Regions from separate parts of the Homo sapiens genome. Here region 2 is reported to be linked to region 1. The links are microRNA targets in miRTarBase. Many come from high-throughput screens and were not tested one by one. Region 1 holds a microRNA gene; the other region holds the end of a gene's coding sequence.

Evidence for each region. Region 1 holds the annotated microRNA hsa-miR-422a (ACUGGACUUAGGGUCAGAAGGC, at 7,637-7,658, opposite strand). A microRNA usually pairs through its seed, bases 2 to 8, with sites in the 3' UTR of a target mRNA and lowers its output. Matches are read on the target gene's strand: a 7mer-m8 pairs with bases 2 to 8, a 7mer-A1 pairs with bases 2 to 7 and ends in A, and an 8mer does both.
Region 2: the mRNA of CELF4 is a reported target of hsa-miR-422a. The part of its 3' UTR that is shown has no 7-base or 8-base seed match.

The regions. Positions count from the first base shown.
Region 1 is chr15:63,863,353-63,879,002 of GRCh38, forward strand. It overlaps MIR422A (microRNA 422a), which reads right to left and starts at 7,667; the gene lies at 7,578-7,667. RefSeq lists an enhancer at 15,542-15,650.
Region 2 is chr18:37,243,306-37,258,955 of GRCh38, reverse strand. CELF4 (CUGBP Elav-like family member 4) reads left to right here. Exons shown (of 13, transcript NM_020180.4): 12 at 5,018-5,189; 13 at 13,759-15,650. The coding sequence ends at 5,145. Among named protein-coding and RNA genes, the nearest start is that of SNORA111, 220 kb to the left of the region's middle. RefSeq lists a silencer at 4,748-4,897 and enhancers at 8,418-8,918, 8,919-9,419.

The sequences.
Region 1 (15,650 bases):
CGCCAGCTGGTGCCCCAGGGAATGGGAGAGCAAAAGCAGAAAGACCAGTGAGGACTTTGTTGCACTCGTCCTAGCAAGAGATGAGGGGGACTTAGGCTAGGGGAGCAGCAACGTTGTTGGAGGATGTAGAAGTATGTGAGAGAATGTTTTCATTTTATTCTTTTTATAAGATGGGTCTCGCTATGTTCTATAGGCTGGCCTTGAACTCCTGGGATTAAGTAATCCTCTTGCCTCAGCCTCTGGAGTAGCTGGGACTACAAGTATGCATCACCATGCCAGGAAAGAGAATGTTTAAAGGGCAAAATGGACAGGTCTTGGAGATGGTTTTGGTATGTGGGAGAAGGCAAGAATTCATTCAATGCCAGGTGTGGTTGCTCATGCCTGTAATCCCAGCACATTGGGAGGCTGAGGTGGGAGGATCAGTTGAGGCCGGGAGTTCAAGACCAGCCTGGGCAACATAGTGAGACGCCATCTCTATTTAAAAAAAAAAAAAGATTTTCATTCAACAAATACTTATTAGGCACCTCCTAAGCCAGTTCCACGTGCTTGGAATATAGGCTTTAAACAAGTAAGAAAAAAATCCCTGCCCCGTGAGTTCACATTCCAGAGAGTGACTCCCAGGTTTCTGCTTCTTATGACTGGGTAGATGATGGTGTGTGTCACTGAGATAGGGACATGGAAAGAGAAGCTGGTTTGGAAGGGGAGGGGTGCTGAGGTCCATTAGACATGGTTCGCTTGAGGTGCCTGTGGGATGACCAGGGAGGCTGGCCAGGCAGGACTTGTGGCTGGAGCTCAGATGAGAGGTCTGGCCTGGCAGGAGGTAGAAATTTGGTAGTGGCCACACATGGATGGTTCTGAATTTAAGGGAGATGGGAGACTGACCAGGCAAGCAAGTGCAGTCCAAAGACAGACCAGACTCTGAGGAAACAGATGGTGGCCTAGCTTAGGGCTCCCTTGGCCTTCTATGCCCTCCCTTTAGGGAAGGGAGGAGTGAGGGAAGCAGAGGGGTGATGAGAATTGGGAGAACCAGGAGAGTGGGGTGCCATTGAGCCACTAGGAAAGCCAGTACAGCCCCGAGAGAGGGATCCATTAGATTTGCTCACCAGGCCACTCAGTGACGCCGATGGGGGCAGGTAGTATCAAAGGAATGATGGGATTGGATCTCAGTGGACTGAGGAATAACAAGGAATGAGGAATCAGAGAGAGTTGTGGGTCCTTCTTTCAAAAAGTTTGGCCAGGAGGAGGAGGAGGAGGTAGCCCATCTGTGCCCTCTAGGGAGAACAGGTGTCAGGGCACAAAGGAGAGTACATGTCACTGTGGTTCAAAGTCGACTTAGGAGGGTCAGTGAGGAGCCATGAGGGGCCAAAGCATGCTGTGCGGTTTCCCCTGGCTCCTTTAGGCAACAACAAGCCCGCCTTCCAGCTACTCTGGATGGTTGATCTGCCAGGAGCCTCTCCACCTCATAGAAGGTAACCTGGCCTGCTGGGAAGCACCCAGCCTTCAGCTTGACTTTGAGTTTGCAACTCTACTTGGCTGCTTCCTCGTTGAGTAGCTATAGGTAAATTCATTAACTTAGCCTCCGTTTTCTCATCTATAAAATGGCATCTTCACAGGGATTAAATAAAAGAACATTGTGAATATAATCAACTTAACTATGGACTTAAAAATGGTTACAATGGGCCGGGCACAGTGGCTCACGCCTGTAATCCCAGCACTTTGGGAGGCCTAGGCGGGTGGATCATGAGGTCAGGAGATCGAGACCATCCTGGCTAACATGTGAAACCCCGTCTCTACTAAAAAATACAAAAAAAATTAGCCGGGGGTGATGGTAGGCGCCTGTAGTCCCAGCTACTTGGGAGGCTGAGGCAGGAGAATGGCGTGAACCCGGGAGGCGGAGCTTGCAGTGAGCTGAGTTCGCGCCACTGCACTCCAGCCTGGGTGACAGAGCGAGACTCCATCTCAAAAAAAAAAAAAAAGGTTACAATGACAAATTTTATGTTATATATATTTTCTCACAATGTTAAGATTAATAAATTAATGTGCCAAAAGCCATTGAATTGTACACTTTTTTGTTTTTTTTGAGACGGAGTCTCAAAAGTCCAGCCCAGGCTGGAGTGTAGTGGCGCGATCTCGGCTCACTGCAGCCTCCACCTCCCAGGTTCCTCCACCTCCCAGATTCTCCTGCCTCAGCCTCCAAGGTAGCTGGGATTACAGGCCCTCGCCATCATGCCTGGCTATTTTTTTTTGTATATATATTTTTTAATAGAGACGGGCTCCACCACGTTAGACAGGCTGGTCTCAAACTCCTGACCTCAAATGATCCGCCCACCTTGGCCTCCCAATTTGCTGGGATTACAGGCATGAGCAACTGTGCCTGGCTGAATCGTACACCTTAAATGGGTATATTGTATGGTATGTGAATTATAGCTCAGTAAATCTGTTAAAAAACATGAATGGGCATATTAATTTGCTTATTTAATTATTTCCTATAAAGTGTTGTTTATAGGAATCGTGCCAACTTACTGCCCAAGTTAAGTTTTATTTGTTGGTATATATTAACACATATACACACAGTTTACAATTTAATTTTCACCCTAAGTGGTGTACAGTCATTAAAGGGGCCCAGACCTCTGGGCTGCTCCAGGTTAAGAACCTTGCCCATGTCTCCTAGACCCTGAGTCTGATCTTCATCTCAGAAGTTGTCAAACTCCACCTGCAAAGCTCACTCTGGGGTAACCAAGCTCTGGAGAACCCAGGCCTCTGATGCAGACGCTTGAGAGGCTGATAAACAGGAAGGCCAATGGCTCCTTTTACCGATGGGGACACACTGAGCAGTCCTGGGTAAGGGCCCTCCCCATCACTGCGTGCCCAGCAGAAAGGAGGAACACAGGGTGCTCAGTGTTCTTCAGCACCCTCTTCCTAGCTATAACAACCATGGTTTTCACTGGCTGGTTCAACTTTATTGTGGGATAGAAGTCAATGATCAGAGCAGATATAAATAAAGAGCATTAGAAAATAATGAATCAGGAACATTTTTTTTTTTTTAAGATTCCAGTTCTACAAACCTGTTAGGAAAAACATCAGCCCCTACCACTCCCGTTTCCCACTTTCCAGGGAAACCACGTTCAGCTCTTACAGTGTCTTAAAAAAAAAAAAAATCTACTCCTTCCTGCTATTTTTCAGATTGGAAAACAGTTTGTAGAAGTCCTGGATGAGGGTCTCAATTTTGACAATTGCTCTAAGAGAACCTGTAAAGCAATATGAAATCTTGTAGAGCAATAGTAATTAGCTGTGGTAGAGGGTAGTTATAATAATGTAACTATTGCATCCTAACCCCTCTACCACAGCTAATTATTTCATGTTGCTGTACAGATTGCAAATGACTCTCCTCTACAGTATATCTTTTTTTTTTTTTTTTTTTTTTTTTGGTTTTGTTTTTGTTTGAGATGGAGTCTCGCTCTGTCTCCCATGCTGGAATGCAGTGGCGCGATCTCAGCTCACTGCAACCTCCGCCTCACGGGTTCACGCCATTCTCCCGCCTCAGCCTCCTGAGTACAGGCACCCGCCACCATGCCGGGCTAATTTTTTTTTCCTTTTTTTTTTTTTTTGTATTTTTAGTAGAGACGGGGTTTCACCGTGTTAGCCAGGATTGTCTCAATCTCCTGACCTCGTGATCTGCCCGCCTCAGCTTCCCACAGTGTTGGGATTACAGGCGTGAGCCACCGCGCCTGGCCTATATCTTTCTTTTTTTAAAAAAGGTAATTTTTATTGTGTTAAAATATACATAATATAAAATTTATCTTTTTTACTTTTTATTTTTTCTTTGAAACAGGGTCTCACTCTGTCACCCAGGCTGGAGTGCAGTGGCACAATCATAGCTCACTTCAGCCTTGAACTCCTGGATTCAAGCGGTCTTCCTGCCTTAGCCTCCAGAGTAGTTGGGCATTTTAACAATTTTTGACTGTACAATTCTTTGGCATTAAGTATATTCATGTTGTGTAGGCATCACCACCATCCATCTTAAAACTTTTTCACCACCTTAAACTGAAACTCTGTACCCATTAAACAATAACTCCCCATTGCTTCCTCCTCCAGCTCCTGATAATGACTACTCTACTTTCTTTCTCTATGAGTTTGACTCCTCTACGAACCTCATCTACCTGGAATCATACATTTGTCCTCCTTTTGTGTCTGGCTTCTTTCACTTAACATAGTGTTTTCAAGGATCATCATGTTGAAGCATGTATCAGAATTACATTCCTTCTTCAGGCTAAATGGTATTCCGTTGTGTATGTATCATACTTTGCTTATCCATTCATCCATTAATGGATGCTTGGGTTGTTTCCACTGTTTGGCTCTTGTGAATAACGCTGCTATGAACATGAGGGTAAAAATATCTGTTGAAGTCCCTGCTTTCAATTCATTCATTCATTCATTGAGACAGGATCTTACTTTATCAGTCAGGCTGGAGTGCGTGGTGTGATCACAGCTCACTGCAGCCTCAACCTTCCAGGCTCAAGCCATCCTCCCACGTCAGCCCCCTTAGTAGCCAGGACCACAGGTGCATGCCACCATGCCCAGCTAATTTAATTTTTTTTTTGTAGAGAAGGGGGGGTCTCACTATGTTGCCCAGGCTGGTCTTGAACTCCTGCCTCAAGCAGTCCTCCCTCTTTAGCCTCCCAAAGTTCTAGGATTGCAAGTGTGAGCCACTGAGCCCAGCCTCAATTTTTTGTATACCTAGAAGTGGAATTGCTGGATCTTCTAGTAATTTTATGTTTAATTTTTTGAGGGACCTACTTTGTCTTTCTGACAACAGTTTTATGACCAAGGTGAGGCAGATACTAAGACAACTGTTCTCATAAACCAGACAGGACACTTGGTGGCTGGCCCAGGGTCTCAAAGCTTGTTGGAAAGTAGAGCTGGGACTTGAGCCTGGCTCTTCTGGCTTTAAGTCCACCTTCTTTCTCGCTACCATGCTGTCCTCCCTATTATATTGGCCTTCTTAAGCCTATAGTCCCCAACCAGAGGTCTCAGATAGATGTTCCCATTCCTCCAGAGCATGTAGAGGAAGCTACATTTATGCAGCCACCCCCCTTTGTTTGCAATCATCATTAGCATCTATCAATGGCACATGCCTGGTCTATTATAGGTCTTGAATTAGAGCCCACCTCACCTCCGGTTAGACTAACTCATTGGATGAAGAAGTCTCATTGACACATTGGGAAAAAGGGTGTGCCTTTGCAATGATTCATGTCTATCTTATATGAATGCTTAATCCCTCAGGGGCTGTTCTTTGATCCAAATTTTGTTCCCCCTCTATTCTGGACCAACTGCTCCACACATAACTCATGGCATTGAAATAACAATTTTAAAGTAGCTGCCACATTTCAGGAATGGAGGGCTTTGCACATGTTAGCTCATTTACTCCCCTCACCCTGAGAAACAGAAAGCATCTTTCTGTTTTGCAGATAAAGAAACATAGGCCAGAGAGATCAAGCCACTTGCCTGAGAGATGGCCCAAGATTTTCTGGGTGCCAACATCAGTGCCTCTATTTCTCCACCTCACAACACCTCCTTCCCAAGGATATCTCCCACTATGTAAGACTTTGTAATCTAAAGCTTATGCTCTTAACGGGAACAGAGGGTTTTTTGAGTTGATGGGTTTTTTTTCTTTTTTCCTGTCTGGAGTTCAGACTTGACTTCTAATTGGTAGGGTTTTGTCCTCACTTCTTTGGACCCTCTCCTACAAGACCCTCTCCTACAAGACCACCCACCAGTCTGGGTCCTAATTGTTTGTGACTCTTTTTCAGGGTGGGAGCAGGGTGGTTATGGAATGACCATGGGTCCCGGCATGTAATAAGTGGCCATGACCTCTAGGTCTCTGGGCTAACACCAAGTGTCCCTGTTTAGCCAGTTCTCATTGAGATGTATTGAATGAATAAATAAGCTCATGAAAAAAAAATCAACCTAGACGATATTCTTCTCATCAAGAATAATAATACAAAATCAACCTAGACAATATTCTTCTCATCAAGAATAAAAATAAAATAAACCTAGACAATATTCTTCTCATCAAACAAAAACAAACAAACAAACAAAAAACTCATAATTATCCCCAGTGTTCTCTGCTTCAAAATAATGTGGAGGTACTCAGGAGGCTGAGGTGGGAGGATTCCCTCAGGCCAGGAGTTTGAGACCAGCCTGGGCAACACAGCAAGACCCCATCTTTAAAAAATTTTTTTTTAATTATCCAGGTGTGGTGGTATGTGCCTATAGTCCCAGCTACTTGAGAGGCTGGTGTGGGAGGGTGATTTGAACCCAGGAGTTTGAGGCTGCAGTGAGGTATAATCTCACCACTGCACTCCAGCCTGGATGACAGAGCAAGACCTTGTCTCTAAAACACACACACACACACACACACAAACACACATAATAGTGAGGAGGACTTGAATGCTATGAGAAGTGGGGAGCTTAGGAGGAGAGAGGAGGCCAATTTGCTATGATGAAAAGTTCAGTGCCCTAAGTTGAAATCCTAATTCCAGTCGCTTACTGTGTGGCCCTGGGCACATCACTTAACCTCTCTGAGTCATATTTTTCTCATTTTTGAAAAGGGGATAATAATTCTTGCCTCGCTGAGATGGTTGTGAGGATTAAATAAAATGAGGGGTGTGAAGGTGAGAGCACAGTCTCCAGCACACAGGAGAAATGAGGAAGCAGAGAGAATACTGGATGGATGAATGACCTAGCAAACAGTACAATATAGAATCTGTTTAAAGAAGTGAGCTTAAAAAATCCTCATGTGATGTATGTTATCTTTTGGGGCTATAAATGGCATTAGGCAATGAGGTATGTCAACGAACAATTATGACTCACCGTGGAAATACCAAGTCTTTAAAACCCAAGAACCAATTACCAAATCCAGCATCAAAGACACACTGAAGCACTTAAAAAAAAAAAAAAGTCCCATAGTCTAGGATGTGACAAAATTGCTATGTGTGGGATAGAGCCCTTGATTGCTAAGAAGATTCTGAACATTCACAGTGGAAAATTTTTCTCTTCCATAGGATCAAGTGAGAATCCTATATTCTATATGTGGATTAGGACCAATTAGGATGTCAGGGTCTAAATGATTTTGGTGATCTTGGCCCTAAGGATTGCAGGCAAAACCCAAAAGCCACAGTCTCTGAGCTCCTCCACTAAGGGTGTGCCCAACCCCCTCCTGCTCCCCCTCCGAAGCACTGGAGCTCCTCGCTGCCGGTGCCAACCTCCTCTTCCAGGAAGGAGCTCCCCACTCTCCCATGCCCTACTCTGGAGCTCTGGGTCTGATGTGTGCCTGGGCCTCCATGCTCCTGGCCTGAGGTGCTGTCCAGATGCTGAGAGTTGGGAGACTTTGCTGTCTCCAGGAATATTAATAGCATGGGAGCTGTCCAGCCTAGGGAGCCAGCACTGAGAACAGGAGCTGGGCAGGGAGGGCCTCGGAGCTCAGAGCCCAGGACCCAGAGCTTCTGAGCCAAGCTAGGATAGCCAGGAGGGGCCCTGGAGGCCATGCCTAAATGAACAAAGGAGGAAACTGAGGCCCAGGGAGGACAAAGCTTGGCTCAGGGACAGAGAGCCCATCTGCAGCAGAGAGACTCAGGCCTTCTGACCCTAAGTCCAGTGCTTCTCTCGTGTCCTCACATTGTGGGCTTCCCCCAGCAACATACAGTATTATATGCTCACCAATGAGGTATGCATCTGCTGACACATACCTACCACTGACCATGACACTCACTGATACAGCCCCCTCACAAGGTGCTTTTATCATCTCATTTAATTCTTACCACTACCCTGTGATTAGCTATGGTAGTACCGTCATCATCATCGTATTTTCCAGCTACAGAAACTGAGGCACAGAGAGGTGGGGTGCCAGACCTGGGGACTGGAGTCAGTTGTGAGAGCAGTGCGCCAGGGAAGGTTGCCTAGAAGAGGGGACATCTGAGCTGGATAGAGAAGCAGGTGTTCACTAGGAGGGTAAAGGAAGGGAAAGACATTGTAGGGAGAGGGACCAGCAGGAACAAAGCCTAGATTTATGAGGTTGGGGAGAGAGAGACAGAGGCAGAGAGAGAAGAGCACTGCAGGAGCATGAGGCATGCAGAGGATGATAGAGGGTACGGTGGAGACAGTGGGCAGGGTGGGGCTGGGGACTGTCTTACACAGCCATCCCTAAAGGCTCTCTCTGAGGGAACATGTGCATTAGTCCCGGGGCAGCAGACCCTCTGGACCCCAGCCTGAAAAATTTTGGAGCAGAGCTTCCCTAAGTGTTTTCCCTGACGGTGTTCCCAAGGGGTGTGGCTTAACCTTCCAACTACGCAGTAACCTCTCCTAAGTAAGAATAGTATCTGGCCAGACGCAGTGACTCATGTCTGTAATCCCAGCACTTTGGGAGGCTGAGGCAGGCAGATCACTTGAGACCAGGAGTTCAAGACCAGCCTGGCCAACATGGCGAAACCCCCTCTCTACTAAAAATACAAAAATTAGCTGGGTGTGGTGGTGCACTTCTGTAAGCCCAGCTACTCGGGAGGCCGAGGCATGAGAATTGCTTGAACCCAGGAGGTGGAAGTTGCAGTGAGCTGATATCACGCCACTGTACTCCAGCATGGGTGACAGAAAGAGACTATCTCTCAAAAAAAAAAAAAAAAAGTGATATCTCTCCTTCTGGGGTCTCCCTCCTCCATCCCAGCCTAGCTGTGGGCTGAAGCCCCATGTCATCAGGATAAAGGCTCAAGGCCTGGCTACCAAAACACAAAAACACAAGCACTCAGGCCCTGGCCTTTAGGGCCACTTACTTGCCTCCTATGTGTCTGGCTGGGGAGAGGGAAGAAGGATGACTGAAGGACAGGCTGGGGAGAGGAGTCATATCGCTGTGCCAAACTTGCCTCAAGATGGGGTACAAGAAGACAAGGAAGGGAATTTATGTTCATTGAACATTTATTAGGCAGTTGATTCCATTCTAAACACTTTTTTTTTTTTTTTTTTGAGACAGAGTCTCTGTCACCCAGGCTGGAGTGCAGTGGCGCAATCTCGGCTCACTGTAAGCTCCACCTCCAGGGTTCATGCTATTCTCCTGCCTCAGCCTCCTGAGTAGCTGGGACTACAGGCACCCGCCACCACGCCCGGCTATTTTTTTTTGTATTTTTAGTAGAGACAGAGTTTCACCGTGTTAGCCAGGATGGTCTCAATCTCCTGACCTTGTGATCCAGCCACCTCAGCCTCCCAAAGTGCTGGGATTACAGGCATGAGCCACCACACCCTGGCTGTAAACACTTTAATTTAAATATGCTATTTTATTTAATCCTCTCAAAAACCTTCACTTTATAATTGAGGAAACCAAAACTCAGAGAGGTAAGATAAGTCACCTGAGGTGTTTCCCCTGAGGCCATACTTCCCACTAGTATCCGCCTATGGGGATACTAAGGCCGACCTGGAAGTTGAGATTGACAGCACTGCTCTGAAGGAAATCTTTAGCTCAAGGACCCCCTTAATCCACTGGCCTTGTTGACCTTTCTTAGAACTGCACTGCCGTGTAAGATACTTTGATGTAACCTTCCTTCCTTCCCTCTCTCCATCACATGGGTCAGACCTGCATTGACGTCTGACGCCTCTCTCAGCCTTGCCAGCTCCCTCTCCAGTTTTGCACACTTACCGAATAATCTCCTGCAGTCTAACCCTGTCTTGATGTCTGCTACTTGGAAGACCTGGGCTAACACAGCCATACAGCTAGTGGTAGCTGGCTGGGCTTAGACTGACCTATATAATCCTTCTTCTGCACCATGTGCCACCTGCCATGAAATGGAAATGTCGGGGACTAATGTGAGCTGCTGCCTGGTTTTCTTTAAACAGCACAGGACAGAACTCCTTAGCCCTCCTCCCTCCCACAGCTTCCTTGCTTCCTTCCAGATGGAGTGACTGGCTGCCTCTGGAATCTCAGGGATCTCTTTGTGCCTGCCTGGCTGCTTCTCACTTTTCCCTGGGACTCAAGTGGGGAAGAAAGTCTACGTAGGTTTATTTATATCTTGAAATGAATCTTCCAGCCTGTTTTACACCTACCTCTCAGTTTCAGGTTATTTTTGTTTTGTTTTGTTTAGACAGAGTCTCACTCTGTTGCCCAGGCTGGAATGCAGTGGCGCGATCTCCACTCACTGCAACCTCCGCCTCCTGGGTTCAAGCGATTCTCTTGCCTCAGCCTCCTGAGTAGCTGGGATTACAGGCACACACCACTACACCTGGTTAATTTTTGTATTTTTAGTAGAGACAGGGTTTCACCATGTTGGCCAGGCTGGTCTTGAACTGACCTCATGTGATCCACCCACCTTGGCCTCCCAAAGTGCTGGGATTACAGGCGTGAGCCACCATACCTGGCCTTCAGTTTCGGTTTTTATTTTGCCTCAGGTCTGAACAATTCCCTCCACAATGACAATGTTCCAAGCTTCCTGAGTGCTGCACAGACTTTGTGACCTGAAAATAAATGAAATAGAAAGTAATCCTACAGATGGTACAGACACCCCCAACTAGGAGGAAGAGCAAGCTTCCTGAAAAGCTGTATAAAGAGCTCTTTCCACAAATTATATTAAGCTTTATAGTTAAGGGGTAGAGGGCTCCCTATCTCAAAGAACCCTGAATCTATGGCTTATTCCCTTTTTTCCCCCAGACCCAGACTATACAGAGTGGTACTGGATAAATATTTATAATGTGAAAAAATGATTATCTTTAATGGAGTCATTTTACAAGTTCAGATTTTCTCATGACCATTTTCTGGAAAGCAGAAAATCTGAAATTGTAACACGGTTAATAATATGAATATTATTAATCATCTAAGTAATAAAATAATGATATAAAATTCTTCCTGCTTTCAGAAATATATAAAGAGGCCACTGAGCCCATATCTCGAATCTATGAATTCTAAATAGTCCTGGCTGCAGTCTCAAGGCTCCAGGCTGAAGAAATGAACATGAATTTGTTTTGTTTTGTTTTGTTTTGAGTCGGAGGCTCACTCTGTCACCCGGGCTGGAGTGCAGTGGTGCAATTTCGGCTCACTGCAACCTCTGCCTCCTGGGTTCAAGCGATTCTCCTGCCTCAGCCTCCCTAGCAGGTGGGATTACGGGTGCGCGCCACCATGCCTGGCTAATTTTTTATATTTTTAGTAGAGATTGGGTTTCTCCATGTTAGTCAGGCTGGTCTCGAACTCCTGACCTCAGGTGATCTGCCCGCCTTGGCCTCCCAAAGTGCTGGGATTACAGGCATGAGTCACCACGCCCAGCCGAACATGAGTGTTTTTAAGGACTCCTGAGAGAAGAGGAGAGAACACCTGGACTAAAAATGCACTGCACTTGCATATCCTGAGGCCAATCTTCATGGTTTTTATGCTCTTATCCACCTAGAGCATCACAAACACCTTTCTGCAGGGTGGCCCATTCTGACATTAGCCAGATTATGTCAGCCCTGGATTGCTCAGGCAAATTATGACTGCCAAGGAATCTAGCCATGGCCTAGAAGAAAGGGGTCATAGCGACTGGCTGTTACAGGAATGCTGACAAACCAGAAAGGAGAAGACACCAGGCCCAAATGATGAATGCTCAGAATTCTATCCGAGGGTTCCAAAACACAACTGCCCCCAGGCCTGGGCCATGCTACTCTAGTCCCTATTTTTCTTTTCTTTTTTTTTTTTTTTGAGACGGTGTCTTACTCTGTTGTCCAGGCTGGAGTGCAGTGGTGCAAACATGGCTCACTGTAGCCTTAGCCTCCTGAGCTCAGGTGATCCTCCCAGCTGAACCTCCTAGTAGTTGGGATTATAGGCACATACCACCACACCCAGCTAATTTGTGTAGTTTTTGTAGAAATGGGGTCTCGCCGTGTTGCCCAGGCTGGTCTCAAACTCCTGGGCTCAAGCGATCTGCCCGCCTCAGCCTCCCAAAGCGCTGGGATTACAGGAGTGAGCCACTGTGGTCCGCCCCTGTTTTTCTTTTCTATCTAAATCCTATCCAGTCCTTAAAGCCCAGTTCAATTTTCACCTCCTCCATGAAGCCTTCTGTGGCTACTCCATTGCATGATGACCTCTAGGCTGTCTCTAGCTTCCTGGGACGCTGTTCTGTACAACATGGCACTTACAGTTGTAAGTCCTGCCTTTTATAGCTAATGGTCTGCATTTGTGTAACATTTGCATTCACAACTTGATTGCAAGTCTCTAGAGAGCAATAGTTTTGTTTTCTTCTCAGTTCCAGGAACACAGTAAATCAACACTTGTTGGTTTGGATATGCAGTAAGCACTCAATAAATGACTGTTGATCTGGCATCCAATAGATGCTCAATAAATGCCTATTGGTTTGGTTTACAGAAAGTGCTCAATAAACGCCTACTAGCTTGGTATACAATAGGAGTTCGGTAAGTGACTGGCTTGATCTACTAGGGTTTTTTTTGAGTCTCCTCTTTGTTGAGGACTGGCTAAGCCGATTGGGCACCAGACCCAGTGGGAAGCTGGTTGGAAGATAGCTAGGACAGGAGAGCTCCCCACAGCAGGCCAAAGTGGAGAGCGAACAGTAGGGAGAACCCAAGCCAAATTCTTGAGAGGGACTAAGAGTCAAGGTCTGGAGAGCCCAGACCTAAATATCAGTTCCTAAGAAGCATCTTCCAGTAACTTCTAACAGCACCTCTTCAGTGAAGCCTTTCCTGACCTCACTATCCAAAGTAGCCATCCCTCGCCCTGTCACTCTCTGTTGCACTCTCCCATCTTACTTACTTCTTAGCATTCACACTACTTGATATTAGCATTTCTCCCCTACCGGGCACCCACCCCACTCCCCACTAGAATGTAATCCCTGTGAGGAAAGACTTCCTTGTTTATCAACACTTGCCTTGTTCACCAACATAACCCCACGGCTAGAAGAGTGCCAGCACATAGTAGGTGCTCAATAAATAGAACTTGAATGAATGACTGGATGAACTGAGAGAAATCAAGAGAAAGGAAGTCAGCAGGAAGTGAATTCAGACAGATCTGGATGGGAACTAGCAAGGTCCTGGGCCTCTGGCGAGAATGGCCCATGAGGCTGTGTGGGAGTTTTCCGCCTTCCTTTATGAGCCTGTAGGTGCCATAAATGGTCGTGTCTGGTAATCTTAAAGGGACGGAGGAGAAGGAAGAGAGGGTCAGCCTACCCCTTTCACATTATTTCTATCCTCAGGGCCGGGCGTGGTGGCTCATGCCTATAATTCCAGCACTTTGGGAGGCCAAGGTGGGTGGAGCTCTGAGCTCAGGAGTTCAAGACCAGCCTGGGCATCATGGCAAAACCCAGTCTCTACCAACAACACAAAAACTTAGCCGGGTGTGCGGGCACACACTGTAGTCCCAGCTACTTGGGAGGCTGAGATGGGAGGATCATTTGAGCCTGGGAAGCGGAGGTTGCGGTGAGCCAGGATTGTGCCACTGCGCTCCAGCCTGGGTGACAGAGTGAGACCCTGTTTCAAACAAACAAACAAACAAACAAACAAACAAAGAAAACACATTAATTCTATCCTCTAACTATAAAATTCTACAATGGCTCCACTTTCTTAACCTTGGGGAGCCCCGTAGGATACTCTCTCGTGGATAACATCAAAACATCTCACAAAGCACATTATGTTTGCTTTATTATACAAGTAATAAGCAATAAACTGGGTTAGTACTCAGAATATACCCACTCCCCTCCCACTCCCACTGTGGGTGGCATATACTTCCCTGCCCCATTGGTGTTGGGCTTGGCCATAGGACTTGCTTTAGCCAATAAAATGTTAGGAAATGAGGTAAACAGAGGCTTTATACATGCTTGTGCATTTTGGCTTGTCTCTTGGGCTCTGACAAGCTGGAAGGTGAAGCGAAGCAAGCTTTTATAACTGTTGCCCCTTCAGCCAGAGCCCCAGAATGAAGGCACGTGGGGCATACAGCCTGACCTGCAGTGAGGAGCCAGACCTAGTCCAACTGCAATTTGACTGATTTAGCAGGGCGGGGCTGAGACAGAGCAGCCCTTCCATGCCCAACCTAAGTCAGTCAAATTGCAGTTGATCTGCAGAACTGTGAGCTTGAGAATAAATCCTTGTGTTGTAATCTACTGAGATTTGGGGCTGGTCTGTTATGCAGTATTATTGTGGCAATAGCTAATAATTATATAATATATATTTACTGTAGAAAAAATTAAAAATATAGATAAGTAAACAGGGAAAAATAATACACCCATGATCCTATCACCCAGAATAAGTACTGTTAGCATAGTGGAATATGGCTCTTGGCTATTTTTCTATATTTCACAGCAATGGGGGCCTAGTATATATACCTTTTTTGTAATCTGCTTTTTCATACCAACATATCATGAGCATCTTTCTAAGGCCATAAGCATTGCAGCATTTTCTCATCACCCCTCCCAGCAACTTACAAGACAGGCGCAGTGGCAACCGTGTTTGCCCAAGTTCACTCCTCTAGAAATGAGCAGAGCACATTGTGACTCCAAGCTCAGTACCCTTTCTACCAGGCAGGGGTTCTCTTGGGGCCTCATTAGCATTTTTGTCACCTGGCAAGGTCAGCTCTTTCCCCAAGGAGAAGAAAGTGAAACCTTTATCTTATCTGGAAGTGGAACAGAAGTGTTTGATTCCCTTGATTCACCTGATCCCAGGGGCTGCAACAGGCCCCAGCTCCAGGGACCTACTGCCAACCTCTCACCACAAGCATCCAGGGGAACACTTGTTTCTGCCTTAGGGTGTAGTGGGGCATGAGCAAGCGGTTGGTAAGTATTTTCTGATGCCCACAGGTTTCTAGTTTCAACTGAGGCTTTTTTTTTTTTTTTTTTTTTTTTTTTTTTTTTGCGATGGAGTCTTGTTCTGTTGCCCAGGCTGGAGTGCAGTGGCATGATCCCGGCTCACTGCAACCTCTACCTCCTGGGTTCAAGCGATTATCCTGCCTCAGCCTCCTGAGTAGCTGAGATTACAAGTGCATGCCACCACGCCCGGCTAATTTTTGTATTTTTAGTAGAGACCGGGTTCCACCATGTTGGGCAGGCTGGTCTCAAACTCCTGACCTCAAGTGATCCGCCCTCCTCGGCCTCCCAAAGTGCTGGGATTACAGGCATGAGCCACCTTGCCCGCCTATCTGAGGCATTCTTCTTAGCAGAAATGGAGCAGAGGGTAGCTTCCATTCCTGCAGTAAAGCTAGCCTGGGTGCTTCTGGCAGGAACCTGGGAAGCCCGTGGAGCCAGGCTGCATTCCCAATTCAGACAGTTTCAGCAAGAGAACCCCAGGGAGGTTGGAGAGAGGGGCACAGAATGACCAGATCAATGGCTGAAGTTACTCACCTAAGCAAAGTGCAGGACTCAGAGATGGAAGGCCTGTGTCTTAGTAGTTGTGTGGCCTCAGTTTTCTCATCGGTAAAATGGTCATGGAACTGTGTGCCCATTGAACACTCTCTTCCGACACAGGGTTGTTGTGAGGATGGTGAAGTAATAAGCAGGAAAGAGCGATGGCACTGCAGGGAGCACTTACCCTCAGAATCCCAAGAGGCCGTGTCCTCCTGGGTCAAGCGGAGGAGGCAGGACATGCAGGTCCCCACTCTCCAAGCCAAAGGACAGCAGCAGGGAGAAGGAACCTGGCTTTGGGGA
Region 2 (15,650 bases), not on the chromosome of region 1:
TTTTGCTTCTTGGCTTTCCCTACCCACACAACCTGGCTCCCCATCTCCCACTCCCGGTCCAAGAAATGGGTTTCCTCTTCCAGACAAATTCCAACCTACTGAGAAGGGAAAGGGGCCACCTTGACAGGGGTAGGAGGGGCAGCAGGCAGAGCCCAGCCACACCCATTCCCCCAGTAGCCCCTCTCCTCTCATGGTGAGAGTGGCCTGGCCTGAGCCCGAGGCTAAATCAGAGCGTGACACCTGGGCAGGGCAGTCACCTAGCCAGGCCCCTCTCCTGCCCACCCCTTCGCCTCCTCTCTCCAGCTCTCTGTCCTGCCCCAACTCCTTCTCTGTCTACCCTGCTTTTTGCTCCCCTCCTGCCCTCCCCACTCACCTGCCTCAGGCCACCAGAGCTGGGCATTGTTGAGGAGTCAGGAAGAGGAGACTGGTCCCTGCCCTCAGGAAGCCTAAGCGCTGAGCTTAGATGAAAATTATGTTTATAGCAGTGAAATCTGCGAGGCACCTAATAATGAAACGACAAGGAAGGCAGATGGATATAAATACACAAAAAGGAAGGGAGGGAACTCCACGTGGGGAGAATTGGATGAGGAAGGCATGGGGCTGGGGTGAGACGAGCCAGAGGACAGTGAGAGGGAGACCAGGCGCGGGGGTGTGGTGTCTGTGCTGGGGGGTTTCCACTATGCAGAGGGGGGTGTTTCACGGGGTGTGGTAGGCAGTGGAAATGGTGGGAGGTCCTTGAGCTGAGAGTAATAAAAATACAGTTTGCAGGAAATGTGCTCAGGGCATGGTGTTAGATGGGAGAGGGAAAACTCGAAAGCATCCAGAAGTATGGCTGTCAGATAAAATATAGATGGCCAGTTAAATTTGAATTTCAGATAGACAAAGGATACATTTTTAGTATAAGTATGTACTTACAGTAAAAAGTATTTATTGTTGATGTGAAGCTTAAATGTAACTGGCATCCCGTGTTTTTATTTGCTAAGTCTGGCAACCCTATCCAGCAAGCGTCAGACCTCCTCCTGGAATTTCATATCACCCTTTCTCCTCCACTCCTCCTTGTTGCCCTCCGACCTCCTCATCCTTCTCCTTCATCCGTTCCTTCTGGGCCAGACCCTTTCGTAAGTCATGAGGACTGAAGAGTCCAGTCCCCAGAGAGCCACATATGGAACCAGAGCTGAGTCTGCCAGACACTCAGTATCTCCAGGCTGACCCCCAGATTCTGGGGCTGGGAGGAGAGAGTAGGAGGTTGAGTTGCAAGGAACCCAGGTCACAGCTTGGGGGTGGTGGAGGGGAGAGGAGACAGGAGTGCAGCATCAGGAAGCGCATGTTAAGGAGTTTCCAGTCTGGAGTCCAACCTTCTGGAATCATGAAGGGCTTGAGGATTCGGAGCATGTTCCCCAAAGTAGTCAAGATCTTTGCACCATTGTCCCTTCCCCTCTGGAGCTGCCACAGGAAACTTGTGGTCTTTCAATGGCATGGAGTTGCCCCAGCAGCTCATTTCTCTCTGGGTGTGGAAAAACAAAGCAGAAGCAAAAGACAGGGTTGCAGTCCTCCACTCTTTGGTATTTCTCCTTATGAATTACAGTTATGTATGTAAAAACAACAAGCTGGAAATCAGTTGCATCTGCTCTTTAAGGAAGTCCCAAATGTTACATAAATGAGAAGAGCGCTGCTGAGAGCCCAGGAAGCTCTGGGCGCCTCTGCTGGAACAGGTTTAGTCTCCAGCCATAGCTGGGCTTGGCATATTTGCACCATCCCGGGTGTGGGTGCAGTCCGGCTTTCCAAAGGCATTTCCTTGCAGTCTGCTCTAAGCACTACCCTCTTTAAGCTGTTAGCCCACTTAAATTAGCCAGGACTACAGTTTTTTTTTCTCTCTAATTAGTATACCTCTAATCTAGCTCTCCTCTCTTGAACAAATTTCTGATGTCGAGCATACCAGCCCTGAAAAAAGGACAGACTCCTGAGATGCTGGTCCAGCCCAGCTGTTCCTGGTTAAGCCACTTGGGTTCTCTCTCTCACCAGGCAGCTGAGCTTTCTGCCAATATCCCAGAGGCCTTTAAAGTGAAACCTAGGCTGGGTGCAGTGGCTCATGCCTATAATCCCAGCACTTTGGGAGGCTGAGGCGGGCAGATCACTTGAGGTCAGGAGTTCGAGACCAGCCTGGCCAACATGGTGAACCTCCATCTCTACTAAAAATACAAAAATTAGCTGGATGTGGTGGTGTGCGCCTGTAATCCCACCTACTCAGGAGGTAGAGGCAGGAGAACTGCTTGAACCCAGGAAGGGAGGTTGCTGTTAGCCGAGATCACACCACTGCACTCTAGCCTGGTGACATAGCAATACTCCGTCTCAAAAATAAATAACAAAATAAATAAATAAAAATAAAATAAAGTGATACCTAACTTCAGCATTCCCTCATGGACAAGTCATTTAACCCTGTGAGCCTCAATCTCTTCCTTTGTGAAAAGGGGATTTTAATCATCGCCCCAGGGATGCTGTGAGGGAGCTTACCCAGGGCAGACCCTCAGGAAGTGCTAGGTCCCCTTTGTTCTTAAAGTGCTATTTTTGCTATAAAAGTGGCCCTATGTTAAAGTGAACTCCTCAAAGGCCACATTCACTCTTTATAAGCACATGTGTAAATTTATGAGCAGAATCTTCCAGATACCTTCATGAGGGCATGTCTAGCACAAATGTTCCTATGTTGGAAGGAGGGCTGGGGGAATACCATAGGGGGATTCTATCTGCGGGCCTTCCCACAGGGCCTGGGAGCAGAAACCTTCTGAGGATAGGAGGAGGGAAGGAGAGGTAGCTCTGGAAGAAGGAAGACGGTCCTGGAACCATGAACTTGGGAGACAGTGCCCAGAGCCCTGCCACAGGGGCCTCCAGTCTGCAGGGGAGGGACCCTGCTCAGACTGCTAGCCAGTTACTAACAGTTCAAGGGAAGAAAAATTCCCTTGACCCTGGACTGCTTCTCAACTCTCGGGCTTCCGAGGACCTCTAAACTCTTCCAGGAAGGCTGGGCTTCTGCCCTCCTCCAGAACTTCCTCTCTGCCCTCCCCACACAGTGGTTCTGCCTGCCGCTACGCCTGTGCCCTAGACAGCTCCTCCAGCCCTTTTTATCTTCTTTCCCCTCCCTTCTTTGAGCTCAGGTGGATGATGAGAAGAATGAGGGGCAGCATGTCCCCCATAGTCAGGCTACCTTGTCCTGGCAGGGACAGGCTTTTGTCCAGCCACCTTCCTTATTCTGGGGAAAGCAGTATCAACACACAATTCACATATTTGAAAACTGCTCTGGTTTACTAAGTACTTGACTTTTACTTGACGTAACTTGACTTTAGTGATTAGACATACAGGTCAGCGGAGGTGGGGACGGGCCAGGAGGGGCTGAGGGGAGCTGGTGGAAATATGGCTGGAGGCGAATCTCGTATGGATCAGCTGAAATTCTCCCTATTTATTCTGGTATCTATATTTATACAGAGGTTAGTTTTGTTGCTCTGGGCCCAGCTCTGACCAATTGTTGCGCTTGTTCGGCTGTAGGAGCAAACTTGAGCAAGGCAGGAAGGAGAGGAGAGAAAGAAAGAGACGATGGAGGCAGCATCTGGGGCAGAGGGAAAGAGGGAAAAAGAACCAGCAGGTAGGGAAAGTGAGGAAGGGCTCTCTTTCTTGGAGAGAAGTCCCAAGGCAGGCCCGAGGTACCACAGACAATAAACTGAGAAGACGGCTTCTACTTCACTCCCGGGTGGCTGTGCATCTCTGTCTTATACCTAATGGCCATTTGGGGACCATTACGCAACGGGCACGTTCATGGGAACGCCTCAGTATCTCGCCAAGCTTTCATATATTTTGCAGGATCTAAGTCCTTTTTACAGGAGAAAAGGCCTCTAAAGTCGAATGAATTCAAGGAAATACTAGATTAAACAAAGCTATAAAGGTTCATTTACTACAACTCGGTGAGGGAGGGGACGTTATTTGTTGATATGCTGCACTGGCCCAGTGGGCCTGGCTCTAAACCTCCTGACCACACAAGCCCTTTCTCGAGGAGCACCTATTAGGGCCAGTTTGGGAAATGCTGATGTAAAATGTTGTCTGTATGAAGAGATGCATTCAGAGTTCCCCAAAGGTGACTTCTGACCTCATTTTGGGAACATGACCTGTGCCCATCTGGGACCTGCGCGGTTGGGCCTGGGAGCCGCAAGGTTCTGCATGCCATCTGGGCACAGGAGTGAACGCGTGGGAAGCGCTTCTGCACGGAGGGCTGTGGCCTGATTTGCACTGATGGTCTTGTGACTTGTTATGGACATATCAGCTGGTGCGTGCTTAGTCCACGGCGCAGGGCGTGGAGAAGAGAGGTGCCGACGGCGCCCGGGGCGAGGTGACGCCCAGGGCCCACCCGGAGCCTGGCGGGGCGGGCAGAGGCCGGGAGTGGGGGCGGAGGGCCCGCGAGGGCTCAGCCTCTGGGCCTCCTCCGACAGCCGGGCACCTGCGGTGGCGAGGGGGGCGGCCGGGCCGGCGGTGGAGAAGTTTCTCGGCGGCGCCTCCCTCCCGGCCCCTCGCACTCGTCTCTCTCCCCAGGCCGGCACCCTGTGCCCGCGCGCTGCCAGGCCCCCTCCTGTCAGGGAGGACAGTGTCCAATAAACTCCTCCACCCGCAGGTGTGTCCGCCCTCTCCCGCCGAGGCGAGGGCTGAGGTGCCGGGGCCGGCGGGGGTGGGGGGCGGGCGCCTCTCCCAGCGCCGCCCGGCCGCGGGCCCCACTTGGGGAGCGGGCGCCGGGCGAGTGACGCGGCCAGAGACTAGGCGCAGGTCAGCGAGCCGGGTCCCCGCCAGCGCCTGCCCCCGGAGGGGCCTAGCACGCGCGCGCGGGCTGGAGAGGGGCGGGCACCGGGGCGGGGCCGGGGGCGGGGCCCGAGGGGGAGAGCCTCAGGCCCGCCCCGCCCCCCTGTCCCCCGACCCCTCCCCGCCGGCAGCGCCCCGGGCGGCCCCGTGGAAACCCAGGCCCTCGTCCCTCGTGTCTCGCCAGGCTTCGTGAGCTTCGACAACCCGGCCAGCGCGCAGACCGCCATCCAGGCCATGAACGGCTTCCAGATCGGCATGAAGAGGCTCAAGGTGCAGCTGAAGCGGCCCAAAGACGCCAATCGCCCGTACTGAGCGCCGGCGGGAGCGTCCCCCGGGGGAGACCAGGACTCGCACAGGTAACCGGGGGCGGCCGGGGCGCGGGGACGGGGGTTGGGAGGGAACCAGACGGACCCGCCGCCTCCTCCGGCCTCCGTGGGCCGGACCCTCACTGGTGCCTTGGACCCGCTGCGCCCGGCTCAACCTGCTCCTCGCCCTGCTCCTCGGGCCAGGCGCAGAGCTGCCGTCACCCCGGCAGAAATGGGCCTGGCCATTTCCCTGTGGCAGGGCCACCAGGGGCAGGAGTGAGGGAGCCACTCCGGGCGGGTGAGGCGAGCCCTGGGCCTGCGCCTCCGGGTCTACATTGGCAGTCCTGTTGGCCAGAGAACCCTGGGGTGAACAGGTGGCAAGCTCAGGCTGAGGGAGGTTGGGGGCAGAACAGGCTCTACCCAGAAGAGCTGCAGCCGCCCGCGGGGCCTGCTCCCAGACCCCCGGCTCTCTCCTCCCCAGTTCTTCCAGGAGGGCTGGTAGCCTTTAGACACTTGACCCCTGCACCCCTGTCTTTCCCCATAGCTCAGTGAAGAGAGGAAGGACAGGATCTTTCAAAGGGAACTTTACTAAGAAACAAAGCAGGATGGGATGAAAGCTGAGGAGGGTGATGGTACAGCACTGAGATCCCGGGCCCTGCCTGCCCCACACGGGTCATGATGAGTGGTCGTTGTTACCTTTTCTGCTGGGCTGGGTCCTGCCTAGGAGCTGAAGACACAGTCAGCCACGCCTCTTCCAGCCCACGTGTTCCCCTGAGCAAAGTTCTTCCTGCAGAAAGAATGGGGGGAGATTCCCCAGGACATCAAAAGTCAACCTTCAGAATGGTTTCCCCCAGTGCTGTGGCTCTTGCAGCCTCGGCTTCTTCACAGAGCAGAGGTGAAGGCTCCTTTCGGGCCTTTCCAGCTCAGCACCCTGCTGCCCTCTGACCGCCCCTCCCTGCCCATGTTCCTCCATTTATTCAGCAGTATTGTGTGCCAGCTACTGTGTTAGGTACTTGGGGTTCAGCAGTGAGCAAGATTGAGAAGGTGGAGACAGACAATAAACAATGACGTGTGATCAAAGAATATGATCTAGTATGTCGAGATTGTTGGCTACAGTTAAACCACATGGTCAGTGTAGATCTCACTGAGGAAGTGAATTGGAGCATAGAAGGTGAGGGAAGCAGCCATGCCCCCGCCTCTGAGGGAACAGTCAGTATGGAGGCTGCAAGGTGGGGCTGCAGAGTGGAGTAGGAACAGCAAGAGACTGGGTTGCTGGGAGAGTGAGGAGGGCCACCTGGTGTGGGGCCTTGAAGGCCACTGCGTGGACTTTGGTCTCTTCTCTGAAATGGGAGATGGAGAGAGCATTGGAGAGTTCTGAATAGGAGAGTGATGGGTAACTTGCATTTCAGTGGGGTCACCCTGGCTTCTGTGTTGACAATAGCTTGTAGGGGGCCAAAGCATAGGTCTACTGCACTGACCACTCAGTCCAGTGTCACAGCAGTTGATGAGATGTGAAGGAATTAATTTCTAGGTGTATTTTGAAAGAGGAGCCAAGGATGAGTCCCAGGCTTTTGGCCCAAGTCACTGGAAGAACAGAGGGATTGGGAGAAAGATCAGGCATGTGAAAAATACACATTTGAGTTTCACAGTCCAGAGTTTGGGAGGGAGGTCTCCAGCTTCCCAGTCTCCCCTCAAATCTTCCACCCAGTGCTGGGGTACAGATACCAGCAGAACACCCTTCCTCCACCCAGAAGTAGCAACTCTCACCCTCAGAGAGCAGGGGCCTTCTCTCTGGGGGAGTGCTTGTGCCTCCACTCTCTGCAATCCTGGAAAAGCAAAACCAGTCTTTCCTGCCTCCTGGTTTCCCATCCTTGCCCATTTCTGGCTTGTTTCCCATCCTTGCCCATTTCTGGCTTGTGTCCAGATGCAAACACACATGTTATTCAGAGTTTGGGCACCTTCTTGTGCCAGGCACTGGGCCCAGTGTGGGGGATGCAAGGATGAATGAGTCACCATCCCTGCCCTCGAGGAGCTTCTGGCTCTGTGCACACACAGACACCAGGAGGCAGCTTGCAGATGGGGGCATTTCCATAGGAATGGAGGGACGGTTTCGTGAAAGCAGCTTTTTCTGTATATAGGACACTTTTTCTTAAATCAGCATAGCTCTGCCATTAAGGTGTGACCTGGGTTAGGGTGCTTGTCCTCTTTGGGCTTCTTTTTTCTCATTAATGAGACTAAGGTGTTAGAGTCAACTAGAGGATTTGGGGGTTAGGGGGATATGAATCAGGCAGGGTCATGTCCCGAGATTCCAAGGGGCACCCCTGAAAGTAGCTTGTCTTAGCCTCCTTGGCTCAAGCCAGGATAAAACCTCTAGGTTAGAAGAATTCCCAGATGAAGGAGTGAGAAGGCAGGTTTATTGTTTGGGATATAAGGTCAGAAGTGCCCACAGGGTTGAACCAGCTGGCATTCAGAGTTGGGGTGGGGGCTTGGGAGGAGTGGTTTAAAACACAGAGTCGGTTCTTCCACCAGGGCATGCAAAGGGCAGAAAGATTAGAACCCTAGACCTTCACACAGTGCTTACCATGCACCAGGCACTGCTCCGAGAAGTAACAACTAGGAGATGTTAACTACATAGCTACAACTACCTATAAGGTAGGTAGTGTTAGTATTTCCATTTCACAGATGGGGCACAGAGAGATTAAGTAGCTTGCCCATCAGCTAGTGAGTCACAGAGCCAAGCTTTGAAGCCAGGGAGCCTTCTCCCCTTCAAGTGAGGAGAATGAGAAGCCCCACCCTACCCTCACCCCAACCTATTACCCCAGAGTACCCTGAATGTCCTGAGGGAGTACATATGACACCTCACTTTTCTGGGGTCAGCCATCTAACCACCTCCTTTCTACTAAGCAGTCCTTTAAAAAACTACTATGTCACATAACTCCTACAGTAAGGTTGACATTTAATTTTCATTTAGACAGTATTTTAACGAATGGTGCTGTCAGGCTTCCCAGCCCAAGACTGTTGGAAGCTCTAATAGAAGGCGGTTGCTAAGAAGAGATAGAGAGCTTCTCAAGGCAGCCTTGGGGACTGCCTTGAGGCAGTGGCTCAATGAGAAGTGGCTGCCCTCGGACTGCCAGCGAGGGAGGAAAAGGCACAAAAAATCAGCTAAAATACTGCCTGGTATCACAGGCCAGTAAAGGGTATTCATTTGTGCTGAGGCCTGAGCTGCAGCCCCAGGTGCTCAGAAGGGCAGGAAGCCTGAGCAGGGGCCGAGGGACCAGCCATAGCTGGGAGCAAAGTGGGAGGTGGAAGGGGGACCTCAGGGCTAGGGCAGCTGCCCCATGGTGGTGCAGGCTTTCTAAGGCCAAGTCAGAAGGGAGTGGGGACAGACCTAGGGGAGGGAGAAGGGCCTAGGCAGGGCAGCTGTGGGGAGTACAGTTGGGCTTTGGTTCCATGAAGCAAGGTCCTGAGTGGGGTGGGATTAGGGTTGGAGTCAGTGACTCTCCTTCCTGGCGGGTTTTCTGCTTCCCCACTGCCCTACCCCTCTGGTGGCTTGGGTTTGTTGTCTTGTGCTAAGACTGGAGTTTCTCTAAGCAATCTTTGCCAGGAAATAAATAAGGAAGGAAGCAAAGGCAGGAAGAGTAGGCAAAAACATGCATGTGGCCAGGTCCATAGCCAGCGGGCAGAACACACCCAGCCTGGCCCCGCCCAGCTCAGAGATTGGCCTCTGAGCCCCTTGTTCCGCCACTGCTTACCAGACACACTGGGCCCCAGCAGCAGGCCAGGTTCTCAGACTTCTAGCACTCCAGTTCTATGGCTGGAGAGTGCACCAAGCATCTTGTCCTGACCCCAGTGAGTCCTGTGACTCTGGCTCTGAGTATGCTTTTGGAGAGTGTCGGGTCCAGGCTTTGCAGGCACAGGTGCTTTGGGTCTGACCTATACAGGGCCAGGCTGTAGCTTTCGGCCTGGCCCTCCTTTGCTTGAGACCAGCTGATTTTAGGACCTGAGATCTGAATTGGTTCAGCTTGGCCATAATTTCCTCACCCAGCTCGGTGAGTTGGACTTCACCATGCCGGTCAGTGATCCCACTGCCACACCTAGGGCTGTGCTCTGTGAGCCTCCACCCCGAGAGTGGTCGGGAAGGGGTCACCCTGCAGGCAGAAGAGGAGCTGCTGCCTAATGAAGACAGTAGCCAGCTGAGCCCGTGGAGTCTTGGGGGCTCCTCAGGGACTGAGTGTGAGGGTGTGTTATGTGTCTAGGGCCACACATGTGTGAGAGATGAGGGTATGTGTGAGGAAGTTCCCTAGATTGAGCTTTAGGGACAGGGGCTGTGTGCTATTCAGGTTTGTGCTGCAGTACACAGGACAGTGCCTGGCCCTGACAAGCGGTTGCACTCTAAAGCTGGGAGAGGAGCAGGCAGAGTGGGAAGGAGTAAACGCCCATGAAGGGCTCAGGGCTGGAATGGAGGGAGAAAGAGGAGAGTCCCAGGGAGTCCCTGAGTTGCAGTTGCCACAGCCCCCATCTGATGGCAATACCCTCCTTAGTTCCTTAGGCCTCTTCTCCCGTGCCAACGGGAGCTGCCCGTTGGCCATCCTGGGTGGGTCTAAGGGCTTCTGGGAGGAGTTGGAAGTGGCATTTCAGGACTTGGTGGGCATGGGACGGTCCCTGATCTGGGGGAAGGAGATCCAGTGTTGGAAGAGCAAAGAACCCAGCCCTGGTGGGCAGGCAGGCTGGGGTCTGCAGAGGAGGAGTCTAGGGTGCTTCTGTGAAGGTTGAGCTGGAGGCCGGGCTTGGGCTCAGCTTCTTTGCCCCTCATCCACAGTGATATTTTAAGATCCCAGGCCTCCCTTCCTCCCTCCCTCCCTCCCTGCAGGAAAGCATAAAGCTGAGAGTGAAAGTCTGCTGTATGTAGAAGCCTGTGGACTGGAAAGCCTGCAGATCAACCTGGCACACAGGCCTTGGCCCAGGCCTGAGTGCCACAGGGGAGCAGGGAATCCAGTGCAAGCTCAAGATAACTATGGGGAGGGGTGGAGCTAAGGACCCCAAAGGGGCCCAGGTGCAGCAGAGGACTATGAAGTGGTGAGGGGTGGAGAAGTCAGCCGAAAGTTGAATCACCTGATGATTCCTGATAGCGAAGAGAACTCATTCTCAACTACTTAGGGCTCCACCAGGAAAGAAAGCTGAAGGTTGGGGCCTTGCGGTGGGCCAGGCTGGAAAGCTGTTCCTGGAGGGGTATGGGGTGAGAGGGTGGGAAAAGAGGATGGGGTAGGGAGGAGGGGAAGTCAGCAGAGCAAGAGTGGGAGCAGCAAAGGCTGGAGGCGCTCGCCTCTGTGCCCCCTGCAGGGGACCCTCCAGCCTTGCACATGGCCCCCTGCAGGGCACCCTCCAGCCTTCCATGTGGCGCTTTTATGGGTCAGGGCTGCAGAACCTTCGAAGGGCTTCATGTGCCTAGATGCAGCCTCAGTTTGGTTACACAGGCCACTTGGGAGCAAGGCAAAGAGTGTGAGCAAAGAAAGAGGGTAAGGCAAATGCAAGATGAACTCAGTAGTGCCAAGGCATGTTTCTAGAATTCCAAGAACATTGATGAATTTTACCCTAAATCTCAAAATGAACCCTGCTCAGGTTCTGAGGAAAGTAATTTGAGGTGGAGCAGAAACGGGGGAGGGCCATAACCTCCACAGTGGGTGCCCTTGCAGCCTTCTCTAGGATGGTGGCCAGGGTGGGTCCACAGGGTGGGAGGGCCGAGCTGCTGCCAGCCTGGGTGGTACTATGGCAGCAAAGCATTTTGTAGATGGACCCCGTGGACACAGCAGTTACCATAGCAAGCCTCTGACCTACCCAGCTGACCAGGGCCACCTTGACAGACATCCCCTGCTGGCCCACAGGCTGTAGTCACAGAAAGCTGAGGAGGGAGGGAGCGCCACCCCTGGGGGAGAGAAAGAATCAAGGGTGATGAAAAGCAGAGCGCCTGCTCCCTGAGATTGCTTGCTGGCCAAGGTGGTTTGAGGGGCTGTTTTATTTTTTTTCTGGCCCCCTTGCCAAACCGCCCATGCCCCCCTCCCCAACGCATGATGGATGCCCTTAGTGGCCCTGTGTGAGGTTCTGCTTCTGTTCACAGTGTATCATGTGTCTGCATAAACAACCGTGTGTGTGTATGTGTGTATGTGTGTGCGTGCGTGTGTGTGTGCGTGTGTGTGTGTTGATGTGCCCATGTTTGTCTGCTGGCTTCCTCCATCCTTTGAGTTCTTTTCAGTTCTCTTATGATTTGACTGCTGTTCTCTCATCAGAGCTTCTAGATTGATGCTGTGGTCTGGTGCTGTATAAATATATTTTCTTTTTAATTTTGTTTTAACTTCTTCCTTGCCCTCCTTCACCCAAATCCCAGCCCTCCCTGCCCTCCCACACTCCCCAACCCCACCTGCCCTGCCCCACCTCTTCCTTCCCCCACCCACACTCTCTTGTCCTCTCTCTCTCTCTCTCTACATATATAAATATATATATAAATCTTTTCTTCTTTTGTCATTCAATCAAATTCCAACAACCCAACCAGGGCCAGTCAAATCCACCACAGTCTCGCGCTGAGCTAGGAATAAAGTTCACGTAATCACATGAGAGTGGAGAAAAGTCCCCCATCCGTAAGTTCAAATCAACTCAAAGTTCACAGTGTGACATGATGGCGTCATGTAACAAGGCTAAGAATCGGTTGCATGACAATTGCCGTCAAGTTTCGTGGAGGTGCTGTGATTGGAGCGTTTTTCTTGGATGTTGTATCAGTTGATGATTGGCCAGTCATGATCACACGTGCATTTTCTTGACTTTTGTGCTGCCACAATCTTTTTTGCTGTGCTCATTTTCGTTTCGTTCTTGGTGCTTGCAGTGGTTTTACTTTCTGTTGTTTGGTTTTTCTTGTTCAGCGTTTTTTTATGCTTCTCTAGATGTCACATAGAGAAAAAAACAAAACAAAAGAACAAAAAATAGTCAAAATAAAGATGAATTCCTGAATTATCAAACATGGGATCATTTACCTGTGCAAACCATTATTTTTTTCTTAAAAATAAGGAAAACATCTTAAAAATATCTATGCGTGGTTGATTTACTTGCACTTGAAAATATTGTGATTTTATTTTTTTCTAGAAATTTGGGGGCCTTTTTCAATTGACACTTTCCTAGGTCTGGTCTTTTTCCAGTTAGGCTATTTTCAATCTCACTTCAAAGGGAAAAAAAACAAAAACAAAAAAACAAAAACAAAATATCTACAGTAACAGAATGATAAAAAAATTCTAAACCAAAAAACTAGAGTACAAAGCCAGAGGCCTCTGCAAGAGAGCCCGGTAACAATTGTAAGGTTTGTATTGTAACCACTTCTGCTAAATTAAATGTGGGGAGGGGAGGCTGGGGACTGGGGGCTCGGGAGGGTTTTTTTTGGTTGGTTTGGAAGAAACAGTACTAACAAAAGCAAAATGCACCTTTTTGTTTACAACTGAAAAAGGGTCCTTGACAAGTGTTTTTTAATTTTATTATTATTTTATTTGGTGTTGTAATTGTTTAGACTGCTGTGTACGGTTTGCTGTTTGTTGAATCAACAGTGTGAAAAACCTGCCAGCATGGATTGATATACGCATGACGTTGTCCCCTCAAGTGGGGGCTTTGCAGTTCTAACTTTCTTGATGTAACCAGTCACCCCCATGTATAAGTGGAAGCTGCTTGCTAGAATGGAGATGAGTCTCATTTGTTAATTCACAATGATTAAGCATTCGCCTTCTGATTCTAGTCAGATCATGATTTTTTTAAAGCAAAACAAAACACCAAAAAGCCACCATTCAAAACAAAATCAAGCACTGTCTGAGTTAATTTATTTAAGTTTGATAATTAAATCTCTTCTGACCTTTTTTAGGTTTTCCCATCCACTCCCTTGAAGTTCTGAATTCCTCTAAATTCCCTGGCATGTATGAGAAAAGTATTATGTGTGTGTATGTGTGTATATATGCATATACATACACACATATCCATGTATATCCACATATGTGCAGGTGAATATATTCTACACATATATCCAGATATACATATATATACACAGCCTCGCAAATAGTTACTGACCCCGGGAAAGAAGTGGTTGGCTGGAAGCTGGGCAAGGATTCTACAAAATTTGAGTCACGGATGTGTCTTCCTTCTTTCCCTTGAGCTGGGAGGAGTGGGCTGGGCTGCTAGATTTTTCCTATCTTGTTTGCTAGGCTTCTGTATACATATTGTATCTGGGCTAGATCCCTCAGAGACAAGTTTAATTATGAATTCATATCCCGCAGTCCCAAATTCTCCCCTTAGATGTAGCTACCCCCAATCCAGAATGCTAAAGTAACCCAAATCAAGAACCTTCTCCCAACAACGAAACCTCAGCTACAACCATCACCACTAGACCTCCCAGTGGTTTCTACTCTGAATAGAAGAGTATATTTCTTTTTAATGTATCATGATCATGACTAATTCTCATACTGGTCTCTCTTCCTTCCCTCCCACCATCCCCTAGAGCTCCCATCCTAGCCCCTGAGGCAGGTTCCTATTGGTGTTTGGATGCTGTTTGTGTTTTCCCTCTTGGCTTAATCAGCCCTGATTTTCTTCATTTTAGGGCAGGATGCTGAACGGGCTACATTAAAAAACAAACCTCTCTCTATATATATTTATAAATGAGAACTGTTGGATGACACCTTTGACATATCAGCCAATATCAATCAAGCTGAAGACTCCAGACACTGTCTGTGTGACTGTAACATTTCTTCAAGGAAAGTATAGCGTCTATGGAGTTCAGAGGGCACGTGTTTGGGGGAAAATATATATGACATGAAGAAGAAGATGAAGAAAAATGAGAAAAAAACACACAAAAGGCAACTTTAAAACAAAATATCACGAGCAGACGGGGAGGCTGAAGGGCTGGGAGCTGGGAGGAGACGCTGCTTACCGATCCCGGGGCTTTTCCAGCCCACGGGCGCCTGACGCAGGCTGGGGCAAGTGGTGCGTGGGGCCTGGTCCCCAAGGGGCGGCTGAGAGGCCGCCACTGAGCATCTCTATCTGTCATTCCTTTAGCTATTTAGGGACCAAAGGACCAAACTTTTTATTGCAGATGTGTAGCTCTATGTCAAATAGAGGGGGAATGGAGGACCCCCTCCTTCCTGCCTCATGGCTGTTCTTGAAACAGCTTAGAGCGATTCTATGAAAAAATGTAATAAAAAATTAAAAAAAAAACAAAAAACAAAAAAAACAACAAAAAAAGGAAAAATAACGCTTCAATGCTTTTAAAACAGCAAGATAATAGTTCTTTGATACTTTGAGAGGCGCTTTGATGACCCTCATCCAAGTCTATGACACTTTCCTATGGTTTTCTGTATTCTATGTCTGGATGGAGCTGTTAAAAGATGAACAAATTGGTGGATATTTGGGGAAAGCAACACAAATCTTAAAACTCACCCGTGAAGTGTGAGAAAACAAGGAGGGGAACAAATGGGACTTACCAAGCAAGGTCATTGTTGTGAAAAGTCTGTAAATGCTTCTAACTCTTCCCCCTCTTAAAATCATAATAGTTGTACAGAATTTTAAAAAGGAAAAGTTTAAAATACCTATATAATAGAAGAAAAATTAGAGGAAAGCAAAAAATAAAAAAAAAAAATAAAAAAGGAAAAAAAAAACCTATAGAAGTTAGCATTACTGCTAAAATCCCAGATGTTGTAGGACTGTACTTTTGTAGAGTTTAGACAGAGCATCAATCCCTTCTCCCCGCGAGTGCAGTCGGATGCCGTTGTCCCCAAGGGCCAGGCCGAACTCGCCCCACACCTGCGGGCGCCTGGCTGCCGACGCCGGTGGAGGCCACGCCGTCGGTCGGGAACGGTCGCGTCGCCCGGGTCGCCGCCGCCGCCGCCGCCGTCATCCTCGCCTCTCGCTTCCCTCTGGGAGCTGCGCGCGCTTCACTCACCTTCCGCTTCACTCGCCTTCCACGCTTGCTCCAGAGACTTTCCGGGCAAGGGAGAACTGGGAACTTTCATCTTAAAACAACTAGACAACACACACACACACAAAACCTTAAAAAAGAGAGAGAAAAATAAACAATCTTTGAAGAATTTCTGAAACTGTTTACAAGGAATTTTGAAAAACAGGGATGTTTAAATGATGCCGGCTCTGTTTTTCTGTAAATAAATTTGCATATTTTGTAGGACTTTTAATTGTAATGATAGAGAAAAAAACAAGGAAAACTATTTAATGAAAGCACGATATTTATCTTTGGTAAATGACTTTAGAGCAGTTAAAGACATTGCTTAAAAAACTCAGAATCAGAAAAAACACTGAATTATTTAAGAACACATATATTTTAAAGTATAACATATTTATTATAATTTATTTGCACCCTTGGGAAGATTGCTTTGGCATTCTGCCTTGATTCCTTCTCATTGATGTCCAGGTCATCTGGAGGCCGGGGGTTCTCAGACCTACCAGTTTCCCTTTAGAAGAACAAATTTCCAGTTCCTCTAG